2 separate regions of the Homo sapiens genome follow, and region 1 is linked to region 2. The links come from fine-mapping of genetic effects on gene expression. A gene starts in region 2. The other region holds a variant in brackets. All regions are shown on one strand. Distances are between the middles of the regions. Region 1 overlaps STK33 (serine/threonine kinase 33). Region 2 holds the start of LMO1 (LIM domain only 1).

What was found. PIP is the estimated chance that this variant, and not a neighbour inherited with it, causes the effect.
Region 1: its variant is the best candidate, but not a certain one, in a credible set for the expression of LMO1 in cerebral cortex (GTEx, PIP 0.74).

What each region holds. Positions count from the first base shown.
Region 1 is chr11:8,387,913-8,392,294 of GRCh38, reverse strand. STK33 (serine/threonine kinase 33) reads left to right here. Exons shown (of 16, transcript NM_001352389.2): 16 at 1-425. Among named protein-coding and RNA genes, the nearest start is that of LMO1, 130 kb to the right of the region's middle. The variant C/G (reference allele first, on the strand shown) is at 2,307.
Region 2 is chr11:8,262,037-8,266,418 of GRCh38, reverse strand. LMO1 (LIM domain only 1) reads left to right here and starts at 2,541. Exons shown (of 4, transcript NM_002315.3): 1 at 2,541-3,081. The coding sequence starts at 3,057. RefSeq lists a silencer at 3,330-3,419 and an enhancer at 4,116-4,382.

The DNA of each region.
Region 1 (4,382 bases), 130 kb before region 2:
TTGGCAGTGGGCTGCAGTGGAAATCAACTCAAGATGTACACGAAGGTTTTTTAGGGGGGCAGATACCTTCAATTTAAGGCTGTGGGCACACTTGCTCATTTTTACTTCAAATTCTTATGTTTAGGCACAGCTATTTATAGGGGAAAACAAGAGGCCAAATATAGTAATGGAGGTGCCAAATAATTATGTGCACTTTGCACTAGAAGACTTTGTTAGAAAATTACTAATAAACTTGCCATACGTATTACAGCAGAAGTGCTTCAGTCATTCACATGTGTTCGTGAGATTTTAGGTTGCTATAGATTGTTTAAGACAGCTTATTTTAAATGTAGAAAAATAGGAGATTTTGTAACTGCTTGCCATTAACTTGCTGCTAAATTCCCAATGTATTGATTAAATCAATAAAAAACAGATGTTACTCAGCACATTAATTTTTATGTTAACAAGAGGTGAATATAATAAGGTCCTCTAAGCCTTTATGCAAATTATAAGTTTGTTCTACTGCTGCAATGGTAGGCACACATCTTTGGGGAAGATCATGAAGCAAGAAACAGGGGACCATACCTCATTTCTCTTAGCTTTATAGACATCTCCTTTCCACCTGGGTAACTAATTTTGCCAGTTGAAGTCAAACTGGTTGAATAGCTACTTTCCTTTGCTTCCAAAGCAAATTCTAAAGAAAGAATTTGCAATTGCTTTTACCTTCATAAAGTCATAACCTAGTTCCATTCCAACCCCCCATGGAACTGTCAGGTCTCCAAAATGGCCCACATCTGGCCAGCTGAGCATATACTAGTTGCATTTAAATCCACTTGGTAACTAAAAATAGTACGTGTGCTTCTTGCAGTTAGTTTAGAAGACACTATTGTGATTCCGAATGAGTCAAAGATAGCACTGGCCTGTGTTGCCCCACGTGGTTCTGCCAGTATTTTCTTAGTACCTTCAGTGTGCTTTCCTTGGGGGAACCTGCTGGCCAAGGCATATCTAGTGGAAATTGTCTGTATTTTATTTTAAACTGTCATTAACATAGCTGCTTCAAGATCTTTCTCCCTTCTTGATGTCTAGTTCCAGTCGTATCATAAGCCCATAAACCATATCCTGAGCTTTAAGCTTTCTCTCAGGGTTTAGTAAGCCAGTCTTTAAAGGGCGTGTTCTGTTCACCTGATGAGAACTCTGGCTTCATTAGCTAAGTGGAGCCTTCCCTTCCCTAGTAGTCTCAAAGGCAGATGTGTGCACTGCAGTTCCGTCACCTCCGGCGGGGAGAAGCAGGGACCTAGTGCACGGTGGCTGCTTGTCTCCTTGCAGAAAAGCCTAACCAAGATGGTGGCTTTGATTCTGCCTATTCCCTGGGCTTGAAAATGAAATATTCTGTATATTAAAAATACTCTTACTTTCACAGTGATATTCTTTTGGGATTAGAAGATCCTATTGTTAGATAGAGTACTATCCACACTTCTCTTGGCCCTAAAAATTAGCGATTCTGCTCAGTAAGCTTGAGCAAAGGTCCAGAACTAACCACTAACTAAAAGATGAAGTCATTTTATAACACGTTAGTGTGTCTTCACCTATTCCCACCTCACACCAGGCAAGGCCAGCCACCCTGCCTGTCATATGATGCATTCTATTAACGCCCCTCCATCGAGGTGTTCATTTGATTTGTAGGAGTCATTTTAATAGAAATTTAGCTCACTCTTTCTAGAGAGAATTTCCACATCATTTTTGTGTTACTTAGTGGTATTTTTGTTACTTCGTTGTGTAGAACACACTTGGACCAGGCCATGTCTGAGCTTTGTTTCCAACAGATGTGCCTCTTTAAGGTCTGGGGATATATGGCCTTCCTTCCTCCATTTGCTTTCACAGCTGTGAAAAAAGGGCGCTCTTCCATTTCAGATTGACTTTCAATGACTGATAGGCCAACTCGAAGGCACCAATAACAAACACTGTGACACCTCCTGTGCTCCATAGCATGGGGAGCTGGGTTTTGCTGTGATCCAGCGGGACATAGTCTGTCTAGGACAGCACAGCGCAGGTGTTATTTTCAAGGAATTCAAGTAGCGATCCGCATTCCAACTTGAGTGACAGATAAGGCAGGCAAAATATGATAAAAAGAGAGGAATGCAGGCAAGCTGGGGACAAATTCATTTGAGGAGAATAGAGGATGATATCAGAGAAGGCCTTACATCAGAGAAGGAAGGAAAATGGGGATATGTGGAGCAAAATGAAAATAAATTATAATTAATAAAGAAGACAGGATGACAACACATGGTTCTGCCAAAGCCGGAAGCCGGAGCGAGAGGAGGGAAGCA[C/G]TGCTCATAGAATATTTGGTTGTTCCAGGCCAGTCTGAGGTAAAGTTAGCCCCCTCCCAGGGCCCGTACACAGGCAAACCTAGAAAAAGGCACAGGATGAGGAAACGAAGACCCAGGGAAATGGAAGCTGAGATTTTAAGAGTCAGCCACAAAGTTGTCCTTTCATTTTGAGTAGGAATGTTGTGTGGTGCTGCGGGGGTTGGGTGGGGGCCAGCCAAAAAAAATCAAAACATCTTGTGCTTATCACTGAAATGCTTTGTTTAAATAATTCTATTTGACTCCAAAATGTAAGTTCCAGGTTAGACAGATCAAAAGCAACCAGTCTTGAAAATGAAGCTTTTTAAATTCCAGCCGCGCTGTTGGAACAGAGAATAAAGGCTTTGTTTAAACATGCATTCCCAGCAGCAAGCAGAGCTTTGAAATTGGCCAGGGAAGTTGCGTCCTATAATGGCTGTGCTTGGCTAGAGACCAAGGAGCTGTGGCCTCTGGGAAATGACCCTGGGCTGGATATTTTCTATCTGCCCCTCCAGAACCACTCTGCCTGCTCTGCCGTCTCTGCCCAGAGAGGCTGATCTTCAGGTACTGCATTAACACACTCCCTGGGCTTCTGGATTCATTGGCATTCTGTCAATGAAGGCACCAAGGGGAGATGAGAGAAGGGGAGAGCCAGGTCCAGACGCTGACTCCCGAGTGCCTCCCTGCTCTGGGCCAGGCTGCTGGGCATTTGCTGCCTTCTTTGGTGGGCGTGGCTCCTGCCAGGCAGCCCTCTTACAGCTGTGTCCCCTGCCCTTGCAGGCCAAGACCAGCCTGTTGCCCTGGCTACTATGTCTTCCTTTGTGGGTTTTCCCAAACCCTCTCAGTGCCTTTATGAACAGTCTCTGTTAAATCCTCAGCTTCCGCATTTAAGTTTACCACCTGTCTTTGGCTGCAACTCAAGTGGTGGAGACCCTTTCCTTATCAGTGCTGCATTGTTCCTGACCCAAGGTAGTTTTGTCTCTGGCTGCCAGTCTCCTACCAAAGTACAGTAAAGGGCAAAAAAGATAAACGAGCTCTTCCTGACACAAAGAGATTCACCTGGGTGGTCACTAAGGGTTGGGGAGGGGCTGGTGGGGAGATGTTCCTGAGGTTGGGACCCAGGTAGGGCAGGATACCTGGAGCGTTGCCCGATACCGAACCTGAAATCTGAAATTGTCTGGGCTCAAGGTTTGGGAGCCTAAAGAATGCAACACTTCACTGTGACAGCCAACAGAACCTGGGAGGAGGCCACCCTACACTGGCTGCTTGCTGCCAATGAGAGACCAGGGAAGGGGCTTCCAGGGGACCCCGTGGAGCCCAGGAAGCACAGGAGACCTGAAGACAAGACGTCTCCTGGGCTTCGTGTTCGCTTCATCTCTACAAGCACTGAAATCACTTTACAAAAGCATTTTAAGGTAAAAGTTTTTACTATTCAAAGGTCTCACATCGTTCAGTTGTACTCTTCAGGATCCTGCATTTTTCTGAGTGAGCTGGCTGAGAACCGATTTTGATTTCTGTTCAGTACATTGTTATCACTTAATTCTCATTGGTGAGCCAATTTTCTTTGCCTTTGTTCTTCAAAGCGAGGCCGCATCTGCGGCTGTCTTGCATTTCTTGTGGCTGCCTTCTTCAGTCCCTGCTATAATCAGCTCAACTCTGTGCTTGCTGGGTCAGTTCTCCATATTTCCCTGAATAATCTGGGTCAGCCCTCAGAGGAGTGGTGGGGGTTCCCACCACTGCCCCATTGGGAAGATTAATAGGACTTTTGCAGTGTCACCATGGCACTCTCAGGACCTCCCCTTCCCTGTTGCCCAGTGCCATCCCAGGTACCTTAGCCAGATCCTGGACCTCCTCCTCCAAACATGCATCAGGTCCTGTCCTGGCCCAGAGAATGGGACTAGAGACGCCGTGCAGACCCTGTCTCCGTCCAGGCTTCTGCTGGTTCCTCTCCGAACTAGATCCTGTGGCATCTTCACACCATAACCAGGGCATTGATACAGGGGCCATAGAAGTCTCCCTGCCCTTTGGGGACCAAAACCTCCCTGTAGGCAAAATCCTGAA
Region 2 (4,382 bases):
TGGGCGTGTCCCTGGACCTAGAAGCAGCTTGGGTGGGGTGAGCATGGGGGTGGGGCGAGTATGGGGGTGGGAGTTACTTGCTTGCCCAGTGAGTGGAGAGAGGCCATCAGATGGGGTGAGTGATGTTTCTATCTGCCTCTGTCAACCCAGCAAGCCCCTTCCTGGCTGGAAGCTCAAGCCACCCAAACCCTCCAAGACTTGCTGTGAAGGTTCCTCTCCAGATCAGTTTGGGAGCACCATGCTCACAGCTGGGGGTGCAGAAAGAGCCACCTGTGGGCACACACAGCACCAGTCCCCTGCTGGCATGCCCTACCTGCTTCTGCAGCCCATTGCTCAGCACCCCAGGCCTGCTCCAGTCCCTGGGTTTGGGGCACAGGGCCCTGACTCCCCAAAGGGATGCCAGTCATGTGGCTGCCAATTAGGTACCTTGGAGGCTGAGGTGAGCTGGTATTCAGACAAACTCGTGGACAAGAGAGTGGAAGAGTGGCCACAGCTAGCCCAGTCCTGGTTTGTGGGTCAGGGCCAGCCCCTGAAAGTGAGGAGAATCTGCCCCTGGAGGTCAGTAGTAAGGCTGCATGCAGCCCCGATGGAGTGAACGCCTCCAGTAGCACAGAGGTTTCTACGGCAAGAAGTTGCCCCTTGCCAGCCTGTCAGGCCCTGTGCTTGCTACACTGTCTAGCCCCCAGCTCTGGTGGGTGTGAGGGGCTGGCACCAAATATGCCGGTGGCAGCGGTGCCAAAGCCTCCCTCAGACCCTGAGGGCATGGGTCTGGCGGCAGTGGCAGGGGAGAGATCAAGCTCGCAGTCCTGAGGCTGGTGAGTCTGAGCAAAATGATATATTTAACATCAAATATACTCAAGGACTATTAGGATTAAGTATTCAAGATGAAGGGGAAAGTGAAACCCTCTGAGCTGCAGATGAGGCATCTCATTAGAAGCAGCGCTTTTCTGTTTTCTCAAAGCCTGACTTCCCTGCCTAGCAGAGAGGAATATGGCTGCAGCCCGCTGCTCCCCATCCCTGTCAAGCACTGGGGCCTCCCAGGGCTTAAAGGGTAAGACCTAGCCTCCAGGTCTCCTTCAAACCAGATAATCTCCCCCCATCCCCCTGCATTGTCTGGAGTGCCACAGTTTACAAAGCACATTAACATGCATTAGCTCATCTGACCCCCACAGCAACCATAGATACAGGAAGAGTAGGTCTCCCACCTCACAGCCAAGGAAACTGAGGCCCAGATAGAGAAAGAGACTTGCTAAGGTCCACTGTTGGTAATTGGCAGAGATGAGATAGAATCCCAACTGGTGGCCCTTCAGCCCGTTTCTCTTTCCCTGGGTCTAGTCCTCAGAAGTGATTGCCAGGACCAAGCCTCCAACACATCTGTCTGGAGCCCTCCTTGGGCTGAAGAAAAATCATTATTTCTATCCCACCTTGGAACTCTGTACTGTCTAGGCAAAGAAAAAAGACTTGGGATTTAAAAGTAGGTGGCCTTCCGGCCAGGCGCAGCAGCTCACGCCTGTAATCCCATCACTGTGGGAGGCTGAGGTGGGTGGATCACGAGGTCAGGAGTTCGAGACCAGCCTGGCCAATATGGTAAAACCCCGTCTCTACTAAAAAATACAAAAATTAGCTGGGCGTGGTGGTGTGTGCCTGTAATCCCAGCTACTCGGAAGGCTGAGGCAGAAGATTCGCTGGAACCTGGGAGCCGGAGCTTGCAGTGAGCCGAGATCACACCACTGCACTCCAGCCTGGGCAACAGAGCAAGACTCCATCTTAAAAAAGAAAAAACAGAAAGAAAGAAAAAGGAATGAAAAGAAAAAAAGTAGGTGGGTAGGTGGCCTTCCTAGGGTAGGCAGCCAGAACATCAGCCCCAGGATTCTGGGGAGAAGCAGGGTCCAGGAGAAGAGATGGGCACTGTCTCTTTTCCTGCCTTATGAGTTACAGAGCAAGAATCGTCAACTCCATAATAGCAGCAGGAATCTTTGTTTTGTTCAGTGCTGTATCCCTAGTGCCTTAGAACTGTGCTTGGCACATAATACATGCTCAGTAAATATTTGTAGAATGAGAAAAGCTTTCAAGGCCATGCCTGTGCTTGCTTCGAGAGAAGTTGAGATAAGCTCTCCCGCTCCATGGAGTCAGGATGCTTTTGGGGGTGCTGCTGGGGTCAGGAGTAGTGCTGTAAGACTCGGTAGGATCGTTTGTGCCCTGAAGAGGGTTAACTTTGCCAAACAATCCGGGAAGCAACACGAAACCCCGGGCAGAACTGGTAGGAAGGAAAAGGATGTGATCAGAGAAATATTGCTCTGAAGAAGAGACAAAAATCAAGGCTGAGGGTCTGGGAGTGACAGATGGGATGCGTCCTCCAGACAATCATTGAAGACCACGACCCTGGGATCGGAGCAAAGACGCTCACCGAGCTAGGACCTAGAAGCCTCCAGGTGGCGCTGCGGAGCCGGACAGCCGTGCGTCTCCACTCCCCATTAACCCGGGAGGGTGGAGGCCTCAGGAAATGTGTGCATTTATGCAGTAGCAGGAGTGCAAACCTCATACATTGAGGGAGAAAGGCAGCGGGAGACGGCCACGAGATTCCCCCATCTCTTTGAATATAATTTTAGATTGAGATTCAGATTAAATCCGAGGGGAAAACACTTTATGAGGCTGAAAGCTGTGTCGTTGCCAGAGACAGGGTTATGAGCTATCAAATGCAATTACATTAAGACAGATTATACTGGGCAAATTGAGCCATTTAGAAGGTGAGAATCAAAGAAACGGCTCTGATCCTCTTTTCCCCCTTCTCTCTCCCTCTCCCTCTCTCTCTAAATTGCAGTTCGTAGTTCCTTCCAATTCTGAGGCACAAAAGTAGGTGAGACTGCTTTTGTATCTGCGAAGTGCTTCACTCCTGAATGTAATTCTAGCTGAGTGCAATCTAGGTTAAGAGCCGGACAAGCGGGTAATTAGAGCCCGCTAGCTGCCCGAAGACCGGCCGCCCCTCCAAAGCGCGCCCCGAGTCGGCGCCCTTCTCCCGGCCGAGCCTAGCTGCGGCTGGACACGGAGCGCCCGAGATGATGGTGCTGGACAAGGAGGACGGTAGGTGGCGGGCCGGGGTCTCGACGCCCCTCACCCCCTCGCCCCCTGCCGCGGCGCGCAGGCACACACACGCGGGGACACGGGCGCACACCTGCTGGGCTGTGCGGGGATTGCGGGGCGGGCGGCGCGCTGGGGGCCGGGGCTGGGGCGGGGGGAAGTACCGGGGGACAGCCGGGCGGAACTTGCGGGGGGAGGAGGTCGAGCCCCGGGCTGCACGCGCCCGGGGCCGCACGCCCCCCGGGTCCCGGCCGCGAGCCGAGGAGCTGTGCACTGGCCGTGTGCTGCGCCGCGGGGCCGCGCGGAGGCTGGGGCTCCCTTGCGATCTCCGCGCCGCGGAGGTTCGCTCTGAGCATTTCGTGTCTGAGGCTGCTGCTCTCACCGCAGCCATCACCCTCGCGCCAGCCGCCGCGTAACCCGAGAGGCGCTGAGCGCCGAGCAAATCAGCGGCTTCGGGGAGAATCGGGCTCCAGAGCTCGGGGCAAGCGGGAGCGCGGGAGGACGGCGCGAGCGCCAGGGTGCCCGGCAGGCGAGGGGAAGGCGGGTTGGACCCTCCGGGGGACATCTGCATGAGCGTGACTCGGTGAGAAAGAGAGCCGCCTCTTGTGCCGGCCCGCTAGCTCCCTGTCTCTCTGAGCGCGGAGGCGGGAGTTTGGCCCAGAGGAAGAAAGTGTCCCGCCGCCGGCCGGTAGCACTTGTGCGGGAGCGGCCTGCGAGAGTGGCACGGACCTTCCGTGGTCGAGCCTCAGTGCGCCCTAGAAAACTGCAGGGCACGGGAAAGGTCGGAACAGAGGAGCCCATGGCTGCTGGAAGCCACTAGCAGGTGGTCCCATAGACCCCAAAGCCTTACTGGCAGGGAGTGCCCTGCAGTTAAGTGTCCTAGAAGGCTGGGGATCCCAGCCCCCTTGGGGGGAAAGCCAAGTGGGTGCCCTAAGATGAGTCCCCAGGGTAAGGAGAGAGGCAGTACCTTGGCTGTCCCAGGACCTCCTGCCCTGTAGGTGAGGCCTGTGTGTTGGTGTTGCAGGGGCATTTGTATGTGACTGTTGGTGCCCACGCTGCCGCCGGCGTTCTGCCATTGGTGAGGTACCGAAAGGGTAGGTTTGCTTTGAGTCAGCGGGAATCCTCTTAAAGTGACTGTAGTGGCCATCCTCTGCCCTTCCGTTCAGGAGTCTCTGCTGGGCCTGAGCCCTCTGTCCCTGGGGCAGCGTTGTTATTGATGTGGCCAGTTGGTGAAAATGCAAAGCTAAGTGACTTGCTCAGGGTCACACAGGATGTTCGCATTGCCGCTGCCAGGTGCCGATGCC